Homo sapiens: one gene and its partners. The protein of the gene in region 1 purifies or fractionates together with the protein of each later gene. This does not show direct contact. Each region holds a gene or a part of one and is shown in the gene's direction. Other genes may lie near its edges.

Region 1 (5,478 bases):
TCTTTCATGACTGCTTTTCCTTTTACATTTTGTCCTTCTTAATTTAATTTAATGTTCACTGATGTGATTGCAGATTTGGAAGCAAAAAGCTCAGTATCTGCAGCACAAACAGAACAAAGCAGAAGCCACAACTGTGAAAAGGAAAGCATCCAGCTCAGAAGGTTCCATGAAAGTCAAAGGTAGTGACCACATCCCGCCCCTGCTTTTCTCTAAAGCATGTGAATTTTGCTTCCTTGCTAAGAAACTGGGAAAAAAGCTTGCAGTATTAGAAGTGGACCTTGATTCCCAGGTATTATTACCTGGGAATGTTACAAGCTACCAAAAAGAGATGTTCAAATTTAGAAAATGCAAATCAGAAGTCAGCAAACTTTTTCTTTAAAGGTCCAGAGAGTAGACCAGGCGCAGTGGCTCATGCCTGTAATCCTAGCACTTTGGGAGGCCAAGGTGGGCGGATCACCTGAGGTCAGGAGTTCGACACCAGCCTAACCAACATGGAGAAACCCCGTCTCTACTGAAAATACAAAATTAGCCGGGCGTGGTGGCGCATACCTGTAATCCCAGCTACCAGAGAGGCTGAGGCAGGAGAATTGCTTGAACCCGGGAGGTGGAGGTTGCGGTGAGCCGAGATCGTGCCATGGCACTCCAGCCTGGGCAACAAGAGCAAAACTCCATCTCAAAAAAAAAAAGGTCCAGAGAGTAAATATTATAGGCCTTGTGTGCCGTATGCATTCTCGCATTCTCTGTCACATATTCTTTGTTTTTCTATAGCCCTTTAAGAATGTAAAACTATTCCTAACTCACAGGCCATAAAAAACAAGAGACCATAGACTGAATTTAGCCCACAGGCCACAGTTTTGCTAATGCCTGGTATAATTCATAAAAAGGGAAAATCAGGAAGAACAACTTTGTGTTGTTCAAGGCTGTAGGCAAGTTTTACCTGTCTGCCTCATTGCTCTGTTCTCAGCCTCTTCTGTAGGAGTACTGTCACCCCAGAAGAAGTCCCCACCCACCACCATGCTGTTACCAGCCTCACCAGCCAAAGCCCCTGAGACAGAGCCCATTGATGTTGCTGCTCATCTTCAGCTGTTGGGAGAGTCCCTAAGCCTCATTGGACACCGTCTGCAGGAAACTGAGGTGAATACAACTATCAGCAGCATGACTACAGTTTCCCATATAGTTTCCCATATAATTTTGATTCATTCACTCATTTTACATACATGTATTGAGCATCTACTTTATGCTAAATTATGCCAGGTTCTCAGGATGGCGTAACATAGAAGATATAATGATAATAACAGAAATATCTATAGAGATATTCAGTCTACCTGTTAGCTCTCAAAGTTTCACTAATGATATCCTATTGAAACAATGGCACAAAAAGAAATTGGAGTACCCTGTAACTTATTTTTATTTTTTTAAAATGCAGTGGAGGCTGGGCGCAGTGGCTCACGCCTGTAATGCTAATTTGGGAGGCCCACCTGGGAGAATCGCTTAAGGCCAAGAGTTCGAGACTAGCCTGGTCAACACAGTGAGACTCCATCTCAAAAAATACATATATTCAAAAAATTTAAAAGAAATAAAAATGGGGCCGGGCGTGGTGGCTTATGCCTGTAATCCCAGCACTTTGGGAGGCTGAGGCAGGCGGATCACGAGGTCAGGAGTTCAAGACCAGCCTGGCCAATATGGTGAAACCCTGTCTCTACTAAAAATACAAAAATTAGCCAGGTGTGGTGGCATGCACCTGTGGTCCCAGCTACTCGGGAGGCTGAGGCAAGAGAATCACTTGAACCTGGGAGGCAGAGGTTGCAGTGAGTCAAGATTGCGCTACTGTACTCCAGCCTGGGCGATAGAGCAAGACTCCATCACAAAAAAGAAAGAAAGAAAGAAAGAAAAACGCAGTGGTGGCTGGGCACGGTGGCCCATGTCTGTAATCCCAGCAATTTGGGAGACCAAGGCAGGAGGATCGCTTGAGGCCAGGAGTTGGAGAGCAGCCTGGGCAACATAGCGAGACCCCATTTCTACAAAAAATTAAAAAATTAGCCAGGCATGGTGGTGCACACCTGTAGTCCCAGCTACTCGGAAGGCTGAGGCAGATGGATTGCTTGAGCCCAGGAGCTCAAAGGCTGCAGTAAGCTATGATTGCTGCACTGCCCTCCAGCCTGGGTGACAGAGCAAGACCCTATCTTTTTTAAAAAAACAAAAACAAAAAGGCAAGAAAAAGGATGAGTACAAATTCCATAGCAGTTTTGATTACTTCTGTCTCCTTCTAAGAGACTTTGAATTTTTCTCTGCATTTCCAGCAAAGTCTTGAATATTCAATTGTATAGGAGATTAAGAGTTCCTCTGTTTTGAAAATAGGTAACAAATGGAGAAGTTAAGGTTCCCAGCTCTCCATTACTCTGCACTTAAATTATACAGTGCTATATGCCCTGGGGAGATTTTTGTCCTTTTAAGCTTCAATTTCAAAAATCACTTAACCTGCACAGCTGTCGTGTTTCATTTCTATTACCATATTCAATTTCTAACAATATTGTCCCCTTAGCTAACTCATTAGTATAGTAGTTCCGCTTTCCACCAAGTTCTAGTAAGACATTTCAGCAAAGAAGTCAGTCTAAGCTACTAAAGCCATTTTTAAGCTAAGAAATTAGTGTAGGAATGTAAAACTAATCACTTGCTTCAATGTGGAAATTGAATTATTCAACAAATAAAATGCCAAAGGCCACAAGAGCTGAAGCTATATCTAAATTCTTTGGCTAGTTTCTAAAAATTTTAGCAGTAGTCAAAAGAACTTCAGCACCTTCATATAGGCTCGATATCTGAATGGATATAGATATTTCCAGAAGAAGTATTCTATGACCTTACTTATTTTTCAGATTTAATCATTCTTACGTTTCGTAAGAAGTTAGAAGTAAAAACAGTTTGTTTTAAGCGTATTCTGAATTTTCCCAGATATTTCCATTTAGTTTAGTAAGTACAAAGTTCACCCTTTTAAAGTGCAGAATTTAGTGATTTTTAATATATTCACAGAATTGTGAATCACTACTATTTCATTCCAAAACATATTGTTACCCCTAAAAGAAACCCTGTACCAGCCAGGCGCGGTGGCTCACGCCTGTAATCCCAGCACTTTGGGAGGCCGAGGCAGGCAGATCATGAGGTCAGGAGATCGAGACCATCCTGGCAAACGTGGTGAAACCCCATCTCTACTAAAAATACAAAAAATTAGCTGGGCGTGGTGGCGGGCGCCTGTGAGAGGCTGAGGCAGGAGAATGGCGTGAACCCAGGAGGCGGAGCTTGCAGTGAGCCGAGATTGCGCCACTGCACTCCAGCCTGGGCGACGGAGCGAGACTCCGCCTCAAAAAAAAAAAAAAAAAAAAAAAGAAACCCTGTACCCATTGGCAGTTATTCCCCATTCTCCCTCTAATCCACTTTTGGCCCGAATTTAATCATTTGCATAGATCTCTGCAATTTTATAATTTCCACATACCACTTAATACTTTTACTTACTTTATAATTTTATTTAAATAAACTTGTCTGTGCTTTTACAGTGACATTCATGACATCTCAAGGGTTATATTCTATTTTTTTAATGTACATCGTAATGGACATATAATTATCAAAATAATATGTTCAGTAGTAAATTAATGTTCATCATTTTAGCAGTAAAACTGGAACATACAATGCATAAGTTAGAAAATTAAGGCTAGAGGCCGAGCACTGTTGCTTGTTCCTGTAATCCCAGGACTCTGGGAGCCAAAGTGGGAGGATCACCTGAGGCTAGCAGTTCGAGACCAGCCTGGCCAACATGGCAAAACCCCATCTCTACTAAAAATACAAAAATTAGCCAGTTGTGGTGGTGCACACCTGTAATCCTAGCTACTTGTGGGGCTAAGGCAGGAGAATCGCTTGAACCGGGAGGTGGAGGTTGCAGTGAGCCGAGATCACACCACTGCACTCCATCCAGCCTGGGCAACAGAGTGAGACCCTGTCTCAAAAAAAATAAAAATAAAAATTGTGCGTGTGTGTGGCGTGTGGTGTGTGTGTATCTTAAGAAAGTTAAAGCTAGAACCCAAATTGCAGAGGGACTTCATAGACATTCTGAAGTGTGTATACTTCACTGTTGGGGAACTACAGGGGTTTTTACAGTGGAAAGGGATGAGATCAGAGCTCTCATTTACTTTTCTCTGAGAATATCTTTTATTTTAGATTGGAAGTGAAAAGAGACCAGAATTGGGGAGAAGTTAAAACAATAATCCTAGTCTAGATGTGACAAAGATAAATTAGCTATAAATAAATATAGGGCAAAGGAAATGGAACAATATTACTAATTACTGACATTTTTGGGGTTTTAGCTATTATCTTCCCTGTATACTAATGTTTTATTGAAGGCTCACTCACCCAGCTTTGGTTCAGAGTGCTTAATATGAATTATATCATTTAATTCACACTGCAGCTTTGTGAGGCAGAATTTGTTCCCCCCATTTTACAGAAGAATAAACAGACTTAAAGAGGTGAAGTCACTTTCTCTAGAGTTTAGCCCCTAAGTGGTAAAATAGAGACTTGAATTTGGAATGTGACCTCAAGGTCCGGGTTCTTAACCTCTTACTGTACTGCTGCCCTCAGAAAGTATAGGGGGGAGATGTTGACAAGGAGGATGAGGGAAAGGAAGAGTCAGTGATGGCTAGGCCTTGAGACTGGGCAGTTATGTGAATGGTGGTGACTTTGGCAGAGAAATGGATGCTCAAAGGAGGGCTAGATTTGCATGGGAAGGTTATTCTTCCTTACAGGAAGTTGAGATGGAGAAATATCCAAAAGGAGAGACCCAAAAGACAGCCAGAAATGCAGTTTTGAAGATCAAGATGTTGGTAGTAATATTCATAATTACTGATATTTTTTGAGTACTTAACCATGTATTAAGCACCATCCCAAGTATATTATATCTATTATCTCAATCCCATCTGCTGCAGATGCTGTTAGTATCTTACAGGCACAGCATAGTAAGCAACTTGCCTAGGTACAAAACAGTGAGTAGTGGAGCCAGGATCTGGACCCGGGCAGTCTTGAATCCGGAGCTCATTTTCTTAAGGACTGTGCTGTGTTGCTTCCCAATATGACATATTCTCACACTGCTTCTAGTTAAAGCAGATTATACAAGAACTCGGCAGCAGCAACAGTCTTTCTTATCTCTTTGAATCACAAATAGACAATATGAATTACATAAAATGTTAAAATTTGAACCAAATTCACTTTGAGAGTGAACAACTCAACCTAGAAAAATTGTATAATCAGCTATCAAAAGCTACATACATGCAGGGTTGTAGGATTCTCATAGTAATCACATCTGAGCTATATTTGTCGAGTTTATAACAGATATACTTTGCATACATAATCACAAATCTTACCAACAGCTCTCCAGAGTAGGTAAAGCATTTTTTACTGTTCCTGTTAAGGAGACAGAAGTTAAGGATGTGAACTCCC
Region 2 (5,408 bases), on another chromosome or scaffold:
AGAAAAGTTTTTCAGATAGAGGATAACGTACTGGAAAATGAACGAAACAAGGTGAAGTATCTGGAAACTGTAAGTAATTTGGTGTGACTGAATTAACTTAAAGCATGATATGTTTGGGTAGGAATAAAAGGGCAGTGGTGGGAGATGAAGCTGAGTGAGGGAGTCGAAAATTTTCTTGGCCAGGCATGGTGTCTCACACCTGTAATCCCAGCACTTTGGGAGGTTGAGGCAGGTGGATCACCTGAGTTCTATACCAGCCTGGCCAACATGGTGAAACCCTGTTTCTACTAAAAATACAAAATTAGCAGGGCATGGTGGTGTGAGCCTGTAATGCCAGCTATTAGGGAGGCTGAGGCAGAAGAATAGCTTGAACACGGGAGGTGGAGGTTACAGTGAGCCGAGATCATGCCATTGCACTCCAGCCTGGGTGACAAGAGCAATACTCTGTCTCAAAAAAAAAAAAATTTTTTCTTGAAAACTACATGGAACCATTGAAAGTTGTTGAGAATTGCTTGAACCCAGGAGCTGGAGGTTGCGGTGAGCTGAGATCAGGCCACTGCAAAAACAAGGGGAGAGCTGAATGTAAGGATGGAAATTCCAGGTAAGAAGTCCAAGTGGAAAATGAATAAGGGCCTGAACTAATGCATTGGAAGTGGAGCAGAGAGGATAGATCTGAGCCTTTTTGAAGTAGAATTCAGGGCCGGGCACAGTGGCTCACACCTGTAATCCCAGCACTTTGGGAGGCTGAGGTGGGTGGATCATGAGGTCAGGAGATTGAGACCATCCTGGCTAACACAGTGAAACCCCGTCTCTACTAAAAAAATACAAAAAATAGAAATTAGCCAGGCTTGGTAGCGGGCGCCTGTAGGACGCTGAGGCAGGAGAATGGTGCGAACCTGGGAGGCGGAGCTTGCAGTGAGCCGAGATCACGCCACTGCACTCCAGCCTGGGCGACAGAGCAAGAGTCTGTCTTAAAAGAAGTAGAATTCAGGACCTAGTAACTCATCCTGGGGTAGGAAGAAGATGGAGGTTTTTTTCTTAGGAAATTAGATAGATGTTACTGTCATTTGAAGCATGCTGTCATTGGACCTGCTAGTTAAGATGTAAGAGTAAGTAGGTAGGATGAAGTCAGAGGCTTGGTTAATCTGGTGTGAATGTTAACCTCATATCTATGATATTTGAAGGGATTTAAGATCCATAACATGGCAAATTTTGTGCTATAAATTTGTGGTCCTTTAGATGAATAGGTAATCTTGTAAAATACTAACATGTTTTCTGTCCAAATTGCTAAATCTTTGTTTATTGTAATTAAAAAAAATACTAGGTGAGTACCTATGTCACTGAAGAATGTTTTTGCCAAGTCAGCCAGTGAATTCAGTCATTGAACACATTGTGTACTTTCCTTGTACCGGACATTGTTCTGGGTTTTGAGGATGCAGCAGTGAATAGAACAAGAGTTCTTACCCTCGTGGAGTTTACTTTCTACTATGGTGGACACACGTTAAGAAAAAAAATAATGCTAAGTGCTTTGAAGAGAAATGATACGGAATCAGAATAAGAGGTTAGAGTGACAGAGGGTGGGTTACTTTAGATTAGGTGATAATGGAGGGCCTTTTCGAGATGACATTTAAGTGTGCTGTGAAACAAGTGATAGAGTGAGCCATTCAGGTTTCTGGGGGAGGAGCATTCCCTGCAGAAAACAAGTGCAAATACCCTGAGATGGAGTGTGCTTGGCATGTTTGAGTGTGATACATTTAAGGAACATTAAGGCCATCAGGGCTGGAGTGGTAGGAGAGGAGGTCAGAGAGGGTCACAAAGGGCCAGTACAATTGTAGGGCCTTATAGGACATGGTAAGGACTTGAGTAAAATCTGAATGTGTTAGGAACCCTTTGAAGGGTGTTGAGTGAAGTGATGTGATAAACATTTTCAAAAATGTTTGACTGCTGGGTAGTGAACACATCATGGGTTCGAACAGATCATGGGAACACAAGAGTGGAAGTAGGGAGATCAGTCAGAAGGCTGTCAAGCTAGTCCTGGGGAGAGATGGTGGTGAGGAGAAATAGTAGTATTGGGAATATATTTGAAGATGGGGATGATTGGATTTCAATGGATTGGGTGTGAAGGGAAAATTCTACTTACTGCAACTTGCACATGTATGTCCTCCCACAAGTGCCCTCCCTCCTTTTCTTTTGAGACGGAGCCTCTCTCTGTTGCCTAGGCTGGAGTGCAGTGATGTGATCTCGGCTCACTGCAGCCTCTGTCTCCCGAGTTTAAGTAATTCTCTTGCCCCAGACTCCCCTGTAGCTGGGATTACAGGCACCTGCCACCACGCCTGGCTAATTTTTTTTGTATTTTTTGTTTTTTTTTTTTTAGACGGAGTTTCGCTCGTTACCCAGGTTGGAGTGCAATGGCACGATCTCGGCTCACTGCAACCTCTGCCTCCCAGGTTCAAGCGATTCTCCTGCCTCAGCCTCCCAAGTAGCTGGGACTACAGGCATGTGCCACCATGTCTGGCTAATTTTTGTATTTTTAGTAGAGACGGGGTTTCACCATGTTGGCCAGGCTGGTCTCAAACTCCTGACCTTGTTATCCACCTGCCTCGGCCTCCCAGAGTGCTGGGATTACAGGTGTGAGTCACCTCGCCCGGCCTTTTTTTTTGTGTTTTTAGTAGCAATGGGGTTTCACCATGTTGGCCAGGATGGTTCTGAACTCCTGACCTTAAGTGATCCGCCCGCCTTGGCCTCCCAAAGTGTGAGCCACTGCACCTGGCCGTCCTCCCTTTTTTTAAAAAAGTCTTTTTGCTGTGATTAGTTGGTAGATGGGATTCTTGGAACTGAGTATGACCATGAAGGCATTGTCAAATCTTAGCCTTCTCAGTGAGCAGTGAACATTGAGTTGAGCAATCCTTTCACTTGTTTTTTTAATTAAAAAAAATGAGATATAATTCACATACCATAAAATTCACCCTTTTATTTTATTTTTTTTGAGACATGGCCACAGTCTGTTGCCCAGGCAGGAGTGTAGTGGCGCAATCACAGCTCACTGCAGCCTTGATCTTCAGTGGGCTCATGTGATCCTGCTTCAACCTCCCAGGTAGCTGGGACCAGAGGTGCACGGCACCATGCCCAGCTAACTTTTAAATTTTCTGTGGAGGTCTCACTGTGTTGCCCAGGCTGGTCTTGAACTCCTGGGCTCAAATGATCCTCCCATCTTGGCCTACCAAAGTGTTGGGATTACAGGCATGAGCCACCGCGCCTCACCAAATTCACCTTTTTAAAGTGTTCATAAATTTCTAGTATTTTCACAAGTTTGTGCATCCATCACTACTATCTTTTGAAAACTTTTTTGTTAATTTCTTTTGTTTGTTTTTTTAGAGATGAGGTCTTGCTGTGTTACCTAGGCTGGCCTTGAACTCTTGTGGTCAAGTGATCTTTCCCCCTCAACTTCCTGAGTAGCTGAGACTTCAGGCACGTTACTTATCCCTAGCTATCTGTCACTGCTATTTAACTCCAGAACATTTCCAAATTCCCAACAAGAAACTTCTTATCCATTAGCAGTCATTCACTGTTCTCCCTTTCTTTTATCCCTCCAGTAACTAATCTAAATTTTTTTTTTGAGAAGAGTTTTGATTCTGTCACCCAGGCTGGAGTGCAGTGGCTCGACCATGGCTCACTGCAGCATCGACCTCCTGGGTTCAAGCGATCTTCCTGCCTCCAGCTCCCAAGTAGATGGGATTACAGGTGTGCGCCACCATGCCCAGCAAATTTTGGAATTTTTTGTAGTAGTGAAGTCTCACTATGTTCCCTAGCCTGGTCTGGAACTCCTGAGCTCAAGTGATCCTCTTGCATTGGCCCCCAAAGTGCTGGGATTACAAGATTCAGACACTGAGCTTAGCATTTACTTTCTGTCTATAAGGATTTGCGTATTCTGGGCATTTTCTGTTAACGGAATCCTGTAATACATATGTGGCCTTTTTGTGTCTGATTTCTTTTACTTCCCATAAGTGAAAGAAGTAGCAAGTGTTGACCAGGCGCGATGGCTCACGCCTGTAATCCCAGCACTTTGGGAAGCCGATGTGGGTGGATCACGATGTCAGGAGTTCAAGACCAGCCTGGCCAAGATGGTGAAACCCCATCTGTACTAAATAAAAAAATTAGCCGGGTGTGGTGGTGGGCGCCTGTAATCCCAGCTACTCAGGAGGCTGAGGCAGAGAATTGCTTGAACCTGGGAGGCAAAGGTTGCAGTGAGCTGCGATGGCGCCACTGCACTCCAGCCTAGGTGTCAGATCAAGACTCCGTCTCAAAAAAAAAAAAAAAAAAAAAAAAAAGGAGTAGCAAGTGTTAATACTATGCTCTTTTTTATTGCTGAATAATAGTCCATCTTATGAAGATACGACATTTTGTCAGTCTACTTATTTGGAGGACATGTGGGTTATTTCTGCTTTTTTGCTTATTGTGAGTAATGCTGCTATGAGCATTTGTATGTAAGTTTCTGTGCGAACATGTATTTTTAATTCTCTTGGGTCCTGGGAGTGGACCTTTCAGTTCTTAGGGTACTAATATTACCTGTGTGATAACCTGGGGAGTGCTGAGTATTTAACTTCATGTATTTTGTGTTGTGGCAAGTGGCCACCAAGGAGTTGGACATTTAAAAAATTAATTCAATATTTATTGAATACTTATTATGTATTGGTCTCTGTTCTAGTCAGTTGGAATATGTCAGGGAACAAAACAGGTAGAAATTCCTGGCTCTTTGGATCTCTTAGGAGTACAGGAAACTCTGGTATTCAAGGTTTCCGTAGAAAATAATGTGCTTTTAGAAATCATAATTTTCGTTCTAAAATTGGAGACAGCATTCAGATTTGGGGAAGAAAAAAATGAGTTTATGGAAGTATATAAACAGTTTACTAGAAAATAAAAAGCAGGTCTACTAAGGTCAGCATAGACAAACTATCTTCATGTTCACCTTACCATAGTGGCTGTTATTTTAAGCTGGTTAATAGAAGCAAGGGACATAATGAAAGAGTCAAAAAGGGAAAAGTTTTAAAACAATACTTGGCTTACTCTGAGCATAGTTTCCCCTTTCCTTAATTAACGCTTGCTCATATATTACTCAGAAAGTCCAAGTGTAGGCTTCAGAGGAGAGGAGCCATAGATAGCTTTCATCAGATTCTTGATGAAACCCACAGTACAAATGTTAAGAAACACAGCTCTGTGGTATCATCTGTTGACTGATCTGCTGCTAATCTATTTAATAGGAAGAGTTGTTTCTATATCCTTCTACTTTTACCATTAAAGAAAAAGTAATCAACTAGTCACTGTTCATTTTATTTTCAAATTTATTTTTGCTTAAATCATTGCAGAATCAGAAAAAAATTTTTATTATATTGTTTCTGAAATGTTAACAT
Region 3 (5,408 bases), on another chromosome or scaffold:
AGTTCCATCTTGGTATGTGTATGTCTACTTCATTCTTTTAAATATATTTCATTGTATGGATATATTATAGTTTATGTATTCATACATTATTTGGAAACTTAAGTTATATCTACTTTGTAGTTTTTTTTTTTTTTTAATTTGAGCAAGGGTCTCACTCTGTCACCCAGGCTTTGTGCAGTGGCGTGATCACAGCTGACTGCAGCCTCAACCTCCTGGGCTCAAGTGATCCTCTCACTTCAGCCTCCTGAGTAGCTGGGACCACAGGCATGTACCACCACAACCAGCTATTTAAAAAATTTTGGGGGGGACAAGATCTCACTGTGTTGCCCAGACTGGTCTCAGACTCCTGGGCTCAGGCTGTCTTTCCACCTTGGCCTCCCAGAGCACTGGGATTACAGGTGTGAGGCACTGTGCCTGGCCTATATCTAGTTTTTGACTTTACAGACAGTTTATCAGTGAATACCCATGTACACATATCTTCATATACATGGAAGAGGATAACTGTATGAGGGCCCCTTTCCTCACATACTAGCCAGTATTAGATGTTACTAATCTATTAGTTTCATTTTACATTTCCTTTTTGGTGAGATTGAACTTTTTTTTTTTTGAGATGGAGTCTCGCTCTGTTGCCCAGGTTGGAGTGCAATGGCGTGATCTCAGCTCACTGCAACCTCCACCTCCCGGGTTCAAGCAATTCTCCTGCCTCAGCCTCCTGAATAGCTGGGACTACAGGCACATGCCGCCACACCCAGCTAATCTTTTGTATTTTAGTAGAGACGGGGTTTCACTGTGTTGCCCAGGCTGGTCTCCAACTCCTGAGCTCAGGCAAAGATGTTATTTTAATTATATATTTTTTTTAGAGACAGAGGCTCATCCTATCACCCAGGCTAAAGTGCAATGTCACGATGATAGCTTACTGCAGCCTCCAACTCCTGAGTTCAAGCCATCCTCCTGCCTCAGCCTCCTAAGTAGCTAGGACTATAGGTGTGCATTACCATGCCCAACTAACTGTTTTTTTTTTTTTTTTTTTTGAGACAGGGTCTTCCTCTGTTGCCCAGTTTGGAGTGCAGTGGTGTGATCATGGCTCATTTCAGCCTCAACTTCCCGGGCTCAAGCCTTCCAAGTAGCTAGGACTACAGGGGCACATCACTACGCCTGGCTAAATTTTGTATTTTTTGTAGAGACGGGGTTTCACTATATTGCCCAGGCTGGTCTCCAACTCCTGAGCTCGAGTGATTCACCCGCTTCAGCCTCCCAAAGTGCTGGGACTACAGGCATGAGCCACTGCACCCGGCCCGTTTTTTAATTTTTTGTAGAGTCTGGGGTCTTGCCCTGTTGCCCAGGCTGATCTTCAAGGGATCCTCCTGCCTTGACTTCTCAAAATGCCCAGCCCTGATTTTTATTTTTCTGCATTTTAATGTGATTCTTTCTGTGAGAAATTTAAATAAATAAAATTGGATTGACAGAACAGCATCTCTAAAAAGGCAGTTTAAACTTTCTGGTAAGAGATATTGTATCTTACCACCCTCCCAACCAGCTAACTCCTGGTCCTTCCAAGTTCAGTTGAGGCATTATTTTCCTTGAGAAGCTTTTTATGCCCCCTGGGTCTGACTTAGCTTGCCATTTTTTGTCTTGCCATAGTCCTGGCATCTTTCTTTGAGGACTGAAACAGTGTTATAGTTATTGGTTTATTCTTTCTCTTCTTCTAAACTATAAGAAAACAGACAAAGCTGTTTTCTTATTATTTGGATCTTCTATGCCTGAGCAATCATACTTATTGAATAAATAAAGTTTTGTTTTTCTTTTTAGTACCAGGTGTTGCTGAATTTGCAGCTTCCTTCAAAAGTGTAAGTAATATCCCTTACCTACTGAGGTCAATCCAAAGTTTCGCTCCTGAGTAAAAGCTCAGATCTCTGTTCTTTATTTTATTTTATTTTATTTATGGCAGAGTCTCACTCTTCGCCCAGGCTGGAGTGCAGTGGTACGATCTCGGCTCACTGCAACTTCCACTTACCAAGTTCAAGCGATTCTCCTGCCTCAGCCTCCTGAGTAGCTGGGATTACAGGTGCCCACCACCACGCCCAGCTAATTTTTGTATTTTTAGTAGAGACGGGGTTCACCATCTTGGTCAGGCTGGTCTCAAACTCCTGACCTCAAGTGATCCACCTACCTCAGCCTCCCAAAGTGCTGGGATTACAGGTGTGAGCCACCGCGCCTGGCCTTTTAAAATTTTTTGTGGAGAAGAGGTCTCACTATATTTCCCAGGCTGGTCTTGAACTCCTGGGTTCAAGTGATCCTCCTGCTCCAGCCTCCCATAGCATTAGGATTACAGGTGTGAGCCAATGTATGTGTTTTTGTTTTTTTGTTTTTTTTAATGTGAAAAAAATACCTACTTTATAGAGTTGATTTGGAGGTAAATGACTTGATGCATGTAAAGTGTTTTGCTTGTCACATAATAGGTTCTGAGTACATTTTAATTAAAAAAAGAGAAAGACGCAAAGCTGAAATAATGTTTCTCAACCCTACCTTTTGTGCATGACAGAATCATCAACATGCAGCTATGGAGCTCTTGAAAAATGCACTGTAACAAATGAGCACCAAGAAAAAAATTAATTAAATATAAAAAAAGAAAAGCACATATGAGGAGTCCCTTGCTCTACTTTTTCCACTGGACCCTTCCCTACCCCTCATATTCTAAATCATTATGTCTGGAGTGTGGCCAAGGCATTTATAGTTTTAAAAGTTACACAGGTGATTCTCGTGTGCAACTAGCATTAAACTGCCAACCCAGAGCTATTCTAAGAATGGGCTTTCTTTCATAGTTTTAAGTTCACTTTCATAAATGAAAAATTGTAAAATTCTGAAGTTTCCTAAAACCTCTACAATAAAATTGTGAAATTCCAAGTGATGACCATTCCAGACTTCTCTCACTTAAAATGATGATTTTCTCATTCTTGATTCTTCTTTGAATCTCCCGTATGCCAGAGAATGTTACTTACTGATTAGTGTTTCAAACAGTTGAATTGGAGGCTTTCACCAGAACTGAATTTCAAGTAATTTCATTCATTGCTATACTAACTTGTTAGGCATAAATCAGTAATAGTGGTCATACCTATTCTTCCACAGTGATTTCTCTGAGACTGACTTTCAAGATGAGCCATGTTTTTTGCAGTGACTATTTGTAGGCCATATCTAAACCTGGAGAAATCCAGGTTTTTGAAATTATAATCTGCCAGTATTTCCAAACAACCTGAAGGCTATGTGACAAGCTGCATTTTTTCTTTTTCTTTTTTTTTTTTTTTTTTGAGACAGAGTAATACTCTTACCCAGGCTGGAGTACAGTGGCACAATCTTGGTTCACTGCAACCTCTGCCTCCCACATTCAAGAGGTTCAAGCAATTCTCGTGCCTCACCCTCCCAAGTAGCTGAGATTACAGGTGTGTGCCATCACGCCTGGCTAATTTTTTTTGTATTTTTAGTAGAGATGGGGTTTCCCCATGTTGGCCAGGCGGGTCTCGAACTCCTGACTCCTGACCTCAAGTAATCCGCCCACCTTGGCAGCCACCGCATCCGGCCCAGGCTACACTTCTTATAAGAATAATAGGGTCTCCTCACACTTTTTATGTGTCTGAATGGATATATTATTTTTTGACAGCCTATTACTAGTTCTCCACCCAAATGGATGGCTGAGATAGAACGTGATGACATCGACATGTTGAAAGGTAAGTGATGCTAGTTACCACTTTTAACTGGATATTTATGTTTTTCCATAGACCACCTCTCTATTTTTTTTTTCTGTTTCCTTACAAGTATTTTTGGCTTCAGACTTCTCATTTAAACCTCCTTATTTGTAGTTTTTCATGTCTGCAATGCCCTTCTCTACCTTTTCCATGTGTAGAAATCCTGCCAATTCAAGACTCAGTCATAGTGAATTCTGCTGCTGGTGCTAAATTCTTCTAATGTGAACCTGATTTTGTATAATACAGTTAACGAATAGCTCTAACATAAATTTTTTCATTTAATTCCCATAAAGGTCCTGTGAGTTGGGTATGATGATATTCAAAGTTCATAAGTTAACCAAGATAGAATGAGTTAAAATTTGGCTAGGCGTGGCTCATGTCTGTAATCTTAGCATTTTGGGAGGCCGAGGTGGGTGGATCACTGGAGGTCAGGAGTTTGAGACCAGACTGACCAATATAACGAAACCACGTCTCTACTAAAAATACAAAAATCAACCAGGCATGGTGGCAAGCTCCTGTAATCCCAGCTACTCTGGAGGCTGAGTCAGGAGAATCACTTGAACCTAGAAGACAGAGGTTGTGGCGAACAATAGTTCCACTGCACTCCAGCCTGGCTGACAGAGCAGGACTCTATCTCAAAAAAAAAAAAAAGTTAAAAAATTTTAACTCTGGTTTTTTTTTTTTTTCAGACGGAGTCTCGCTTTTGTTGCCCAGGCTGGAGTGCAGTGGTGCGATCTCGGCTCACTGCAACCTCCGCCTCCTGGGTTCAAGCGATTCTCCTGCCTCAGCCTCCCGAGTAGCTGGAATTACAGGCATCCCCCACCACGTCCAGCTAATTTTTGTAGTTTTAGTAGAGATGGGGTTTCACCATGTTGGCCAGGCTGGTCTCAAACTCCTGACCTCCAGTGATCCACCCACCTCGGCCTCCCAGAGTGCTGGGATTACAGGCGTGAGCCACCACGCCCCGCGTAAACTCTGCTTTTTTAAGTCTAGCCTCTTTCCATTATAACACAAGTGCCTTATTTAGAATTTACTGCCATATATTGTCAGTACTATTAAATGACAACCTCTTAGTGGGTTAAGACCTATTTTTTATTTTTTTATCCCATCAATTTCTTCTATAAAGAATACTATAAGTAGTGAATATTGTTGTTTGATAAATGATTTGAAACTCAATCACAAAGTGGAAATTTAAATTAAAAAACATTAATTTTCCATGATTTTGCCCTACTTTATTTATTTTATCATCCTTCTGGTGATAAGATTCATGATGATTGTGAAGTAATAGACTGAAATTAAGGTAAAAACCTGGGATTCTTGAGGTATTTAAACAGCTGAACATATCAAGAAAGTCTACTTATGCTAGGTGTAGATAATGACTGTGGCATGATAAATGAGATTAAAAAAAAACACCTTTATTTGATTTTAGAAGTAATTCATTGTTCTTTATGAAATGCTTAAATGCAGATTCCCTCCTCCTGCCATGGAAAAATTAAGTCTCAAGGGCATCTCAGGTTCATTCTTCTAATGTTTCAAACAGACATTTATATAATATCTCATCAGCATGTATTTCTTAAGGCAACTTTAAATTTTTAGTGAGGGATCATAGCATTATATTCTATGCAAACTGACCTGTGTCTTAAACCTAAAAGGAATTGGGTGCTATTT
Region 4 (5,408 bases), on another chromosome or scaffold:
TGCAAAGGAGCCAGACGTTCTCAGAGGAGCTCCAAGGAGAACTTCATACCCTGCTCTGAGCCTGTGAAAGGGACAGGGGCATTAAGAGATTGCAAGAACGTATTAGATGTTTCTTGCCGTAAGACAGGTTTAAAATTGGAAAAAGCTTTTCTTGAAGTCAACAGACCCCAAATCCATAAGTTAGATCCAAGTTGGAAGGAGCGCAAAGTGACACCCTCGAAGTATTCTTCCTTGATTTACTTCGACTCCAGTGCAACATATAATCTTGATGAGGAAAATAGATTTAGGACATTAAAATGGTTAATTTCTCCTGTAAAAATAGTTTCCAGACCAACAATACGACAGGGCCATGGAGAGAACCGTCAGAGGGAGATTGAAATCCGATTTGATCAGCTTCATCGGGAATATTGCCTGAGTCCCAGGAACCAGCCTCGCCGGATGTGCCTCCCGGACTCCTGGGCCATGAACATGTACAGAGGGGGTCCTGCGAGTCCTGGTGGCCTTCAGGGCTTAGAAACCCGCAGGCTGAGTTTACCTTCCAGCAAAGCAAAAGCAAAAAGTTTAAGTGAGGCTTTTGAAAACCTAGGCAAAAGATCTCTGGAAGCAGGTAGGTGCCTGCCCAAGAGCGATTCATCTTCATCACTTCCAAAGACCAACCCCACACACAGCGCAACTCGCCCGCAGCAGACATCTGACCTTCACGTTCAGGGAAATAGTTCTGGAATATTTAGAAAGTCAGTGTCACCCAGCAAAACTCTTTCAGTCCCAGATAAAGAAGTGCCAGGCCACGGAAGGAATCGTTACGATGAAATTAAAGAAGAATTTGACAAGCTTCATCAAAAGTATTGCCTCAAATCTCCTGGGCAGATGACAGTGCCTTTATGTATTGGAGTGTCTACAGATAAAGCAAGTATGGAAGTTCGATATCAAACAGAAGGCTTCTTAGGAAAATTAAATCCAGACCCTCACTTCCAGGGTTTCCAGAAGTTGCCATCATCACCCCTGGGGTGCAGAAAAAGTCTACTGGGCTCAACTGCAATTGAGGCTCCTTCATCTACATGTGTTGCTCGTGCCATCACGAGGGATGGCACGAGGGACCATCAGTTCCCTGCAAAAAGACCCAGGCTATCAGAACCCCAGGGCTCCGGACGCCAGGGCAATTCCCTGGGTGCCTCAGATGGGGTGGACAACACCGTCAGACCGGGAGACCAGGGCAGCTCTTCACAGCCCAACTCAGAAGAGAGGTAGGTGTGTTTCTGTTGGTTGAATGTGGTTTATGTGAGTGACTGCTCTTTGGACAGAGGCTTTTTATGGTAGGAATCTTTGCGCCACGTTTAGTGAATCTCAGCCGAATTCTTACATACGTGATCATTTTCTGAGCTTTCTCCCAAATGCTTTTCCTTCCTGTAAAGTCAGCGTCTCTATCAAGAATGTGTCCCTGTGTAAGATGCATCGAGGTAAAGCAGAAAGTGCTCTTGCAGAAGTTTCACACTTTCCATTAGAATGCATTCAGAGGCTTTTTTCCTGCAAATCCTCACTTACTACGCTTTATTCGTCTTTGTCAAACCTTCATTTCTAACCTCTTCATCTGACACTCAGAAAATAGCTGTTGTAAGGCGAAAGTGATCTAAAGCGAATGACTTCCTATTTCTGGATTCCTGGTAGGGAAAGAGCAAGAGTGGCCTGGGAGAGCCACGAGCACAGTATTCTCACAGGTGCGAGGGGTGCCCTGCAGATATCTCAGTGCTCAGTGTTAAAACTTCTGCACCTTGTTCTGCAGCTTAATTTGTGCGAATCATGTCAGCTAGAGTTTTAGTCTGCGTGTGCCCTTTTCTCTAGAGACAGTGGGGTGGGGTGGGTCAGTGGGAGTGAGTACCTTTGTTGGCATTAAAGGTTGGATTCCCCAGCACAGCTTCTCTGTGTGTCCACAGTCAGGATCTGGAGGATGCGACTTTCTTAACCCACAGGTGGACGGGACTTGACTGTGGGTTTGATTTGGCCGGTTCCTTTGGGTTTTGTGTGTTTGTGGTTCCAGCAGGTGAGGCCGTGTCTCCAGTATCCTCTTCCCTTGTGCCCTAGCCTGGCGATGTGCCTCTTCTCTGAGGTCATTTGGGTGGACCCTGCCTGCCATAAGTGTCCCATTTTCTGTTTCTCCCACCTGGACCCGCCTGGCCTGCGAGCCCTTCTCAGCCACTGGCTCCTGCCGTGCGTCCAGCTCAGAACCAAGGTCTGGTATGCCTTGTTCCTTCTGTGGTGCCTGCCTTCGAAGCCTGCAGTCCCGCCTGTGCATGGCAGAGACCACACTCTCAGACCGCCAGCGGCCTCCTGTGGCTTGAGCCCCCTGGGGCCTTTCTCACTGTCACTCTGTCTTCCCAATGCCCTTGGACTGCTCAGGGCCACCTGCTCCAGGGTCTGCCGTAGGACAGCCCTTCCCTTCCAGGGAACTTTCACTGGCATTCTCCCCCTACTCCCCAGTTCTTTGCTATTGCATCCTCGGACATCCTCCCTAGACTCCACCCACCGCTCAGCTGCCTGCTCCGTGCAGGTAACCCCCACCCTCCCAGGGGCTGCACATGGTGGGTGCTGCAGTGGGGAGCTGTCTGGACACAGACCAGTCTCATGGGTTAGCGGCTCAGGCTCCTTGGCTCAGTTCTAGAAGCTCCCAGGTTTTGTTGGATGTTTTGGTTTTCAAAGTTATTTTCGTGTATAAAGTCATACTGTGTGAGCTAACCAGAAGCAGATGAAACAAGCCTTGGTTGTCATCTGTCTTCCCAGTTGAGGATGGACATACGTAAGTGTTCAGGTGATGGGAAAGGTTTTTCTCTGCAGGGCCCCAGCTAGGGTCAGGGGCACTGTGTGGGCAGGGCCCTCGGAGCTCCTCCCCTGGCAGTGCACGGCTAACAGCAGTCTTTCCCTCGGGTCTTGGTCTCCAACTGTGTGCCTGATGCCCACTCCTGTGCCCACTTGGGGCTTTTTCAGACCAAACCACCAGCCGGGTGACTTTCAGCCACAGTTAGTGAAGCCTTCAAGAATCTCAGCTACATCTTCATGGCAGACACTTCATGGAGGCTGCTTTGAGGCAAAGTTTATGCGTTCTGTTTAACAGATGACCTCTCAAGAGTCTCCTTCTCAGTTGAAAGGGGAGAATTTCACCAAAAACAACTGTCCGGCCCAGAGAGAGATCTGAGGTTTCTCCTGGTCTCCCACACATCAGAGCTCCTCTGCTCTGCTCGTCCTGCTTGTCTAAACCTAACTGCTTTTTCTCAGATAGTGCCCCAGCTCTTCCTTTTACCATCATCCTGCCCCTGGGATTTTGTCTCGTGCCTTTTCCCACCTTGTTCCATGATCTGGCACCGTGCCAGTCGCCTGCAGACCCCTTTCCATGAGTGACATCTGCCCCAGTGCTCCGTGCAGAGGCTCCTGCCTTGCTTTTTCACCTGCTCAGTCTAAAGGGCTTTCTTCTGGCCCAGCCACACAGGAGGGACCTCGGCCTTGTAGAGAATGGTGTGAGGTTGCATTATTGTGGGACCATCCTGAGGACTCAGCCCTTGGTGGCCCCGCAGGGCCCTCCCAGCTACCCTGGAATTTGATAGCAAGTCAAATCATGAACACCCCAGGTTTCATTTTAAACCACAATATAAACATGTTTAACTGGTTTCCTATGTTTTTCTGCTTTTCCCGCTTAAATGATAGATTTCTTGAGGAAAGAGACCAATTCTTCATGAGCTGCAACTACATATGGAGTTTTCATGCCTAACGTCTGAGTGCTCTCTGTGTGCCAGGCCATGCTGAACCGTTTTTACGTCTTATCTTCTTTCATCCCCACCAGAACCCCTTGATTAGATCGATTCTGTCCAATAGGCAGGCTGTCTCTCCTTTTAATAGATATGGAAAAGTAGCTTAAGTCTTAGAACTCCTAAATTCACTCGTGCAGCAGCGCTAGCTGGGCCAGGGTGTGGGATGTGGACTTCCCCACCAGCTTGTGCTCCCTGGGGGAGTGTGGGGAGCAGGGTCGGGGGGTTGCCATTATATTTTTGTTGTTTCTTTAACATAACTTACTTATTTAACGTAATGCCACTTTCTATAAGTATTTTTATACATGCAATGGAATAAGTAGAAAACAGTTAACCTTTTAGTGGCTGGCATTGGGAATTCTAGAATTTTGCTAACATCATTTTCTTTGTCTTTTTTTTTTCCTAGAGGAGAGAACACGTCTTACAGGATGGAAGAGAAAAGTGATTTCATGCTAGAAAAATTGGAAACTAAAAGTGTGTAGCTAGGTTATTTCGGAGTGTTATTTATCTTCCCACTTGCTCTCTGTTTGTATTTTTGTTTTGTTTTTGATTCTTGAGACTGTGAGGACTTGGTTGACTTCTCTGCCCTTAAAGTAAATATTAGTGAAATTGGTTCCATCAGAGATAACCTCGAGTTCTTGGTGTAGAAATTATGTGAATAAAGTTGCTCAATTAGAATTTTTAGGGTTCTCTTTGATAGGCCTGTTTTTCTGATGTGTGTGTTTTTTTTGGGGGGGGGTTATTTGTTTGTTTGTTTGTTTGTTTGTTTGTTTTTGAGACAGTCTCTCTCTATCGCCCAGGCTGGAGTGCGGTGGCACAATCTTGGCTCACTGCAACTTCCGCCTCCCGGGTTCAAGCGATTCTTCTGCCTCAGCCTCCCGAGTAGCTGGGATTACAGGCGCGCGCCACCACGCCTGGCTAATTTTTGTAGTTTTAGTAGAGACGGGGTTTCACCATATTGACCAGGCTGGTCTCGAGCTCCTGGCCTCGTGATCCATCTGCCTCGGCCTCCCAAAGTGCTGGGATTATAGGCGTGAGCCACTGCTCCCAGCCGTGTGTTCTTTTTTAAATTTAGATATGTCCAGAGAATCCTCTCTCCTGTTTCCCATTTCATTCGAGAATATTGTTTGCTTGTGAGACGTAAGTTCGAGCCCTGCATGCAATGACCCTTGAAGGAAAATAAACAGTCCTGGTGGTCCCAGACGCTCCTGCAGCCACAGCGCCTGTGACTCCTCATGATTCTTACTGAAGCTGTTGATGACAGGATATCATGGTGACGTTTTTGTAATGAAATATTTCACATATTCAGAATACATTGGTGAAACTCATGCTGGAGTAAATAGTTAATATATGGCCATATGAGTTTGGGTTTTTTTTTTTTATGAAAGATTTAAAATGAGATTAAATTACACATTTTTCATTCCCGCCTGCCGCCCCAGGCGATTGCTCTCCTGATGTCAGGTATCACCCCCATACCCTGCCCCATATCTCTTCCCCCCTGCGTCTTACATTGGGACCATGTTATGTGTGTGTGTGCGTGCGCACCTGCATGCTCAGGCTGCCATAACAATGCTGGAGACCAGGTGGCTTAAACAGTAGAAGTTTATTTTCTCA

Evidence for each region. The genes of interacting proteins can lie anywhere in the genome.
Region 2: the proteins of HMGXB4 (region 1) and ARID4B purify together in Homo sapiens (affinity purification with mass spectrometry, with the first as the bait; one large-scale study listed by BioGRID). This does not show direct contact.
Region 3: the proteins of HMGXB4 (region 1) and LIN52 purify together in Homo sapiens (affinity purification with mass spectrometry, with the first as the bait; one large-scale study listed by BioGRID). This does not show direct contact.
Region 4: the proteins of HMGXB4 (region 1) and HJURP purify together in Homo sapiens (affinity purification with mass spectrometry, with the first as the bait; one large-scale study listed by BioGRID). This does not show direct contact.

The regions. Positions count from the first base shown.
Region 1 is NC_000022.11:35,287,274-35,292,751, forward strand, and holds part of HMGXB4 (HMG domain-containing protein 4), read left to right. Parts: intron 1-73; coding exon 74-179; intron 180-964; coding exon 965-1,134; intron 1,135-5,478. UniProt on the Homo sapiens protein: Negatively regulates Wnt/beta-catenin signaling during development.
Region 2 is NC_000001.11:235,317,089-235,322,496, reverse strand, and holds part of ARID4B (AT-rich interactive domain-containing protein 4B), read left to right. Parts: intron 1-5,408. UniProt on the Homo sapiens protein: Acts as a transcriptional repressor. May function in the assembly and/or enzymatic activity of the Sin3A corepressor complex or in mediating interactions between the complex and other regulatory complexes.
Region 3 is NC_000014.9:74,094,139-74,099,546, forward strand, and holds part of LIN52 (protein lin-52 homolog), read left to right. Parts: intron 1-1,809; coding exon 1,810-1,847; intron 1,848-2,524; exon of another isoform or gene 2,525-2,581; intron 2,582-3,655; coding exon 3,656-3,722; intron 3,723-5,408.
Region 4 is NC_000002.12:233,836,445-233,841,852, reverse strand, and holds the end of HJURP (Holliday junction recognition protein), read left to right. Parts: coding exon 1-1,244; intron 1,245-4,200; coding exon 4,201-4,276; 3' UTR 4,277-5,151; downstream 5,152-5,408. UniProt on the Homo sapiens protein: Centromeric protein that plays a central role in the incorporation and maintenance of histone H3-like variant CENPA at centromeres.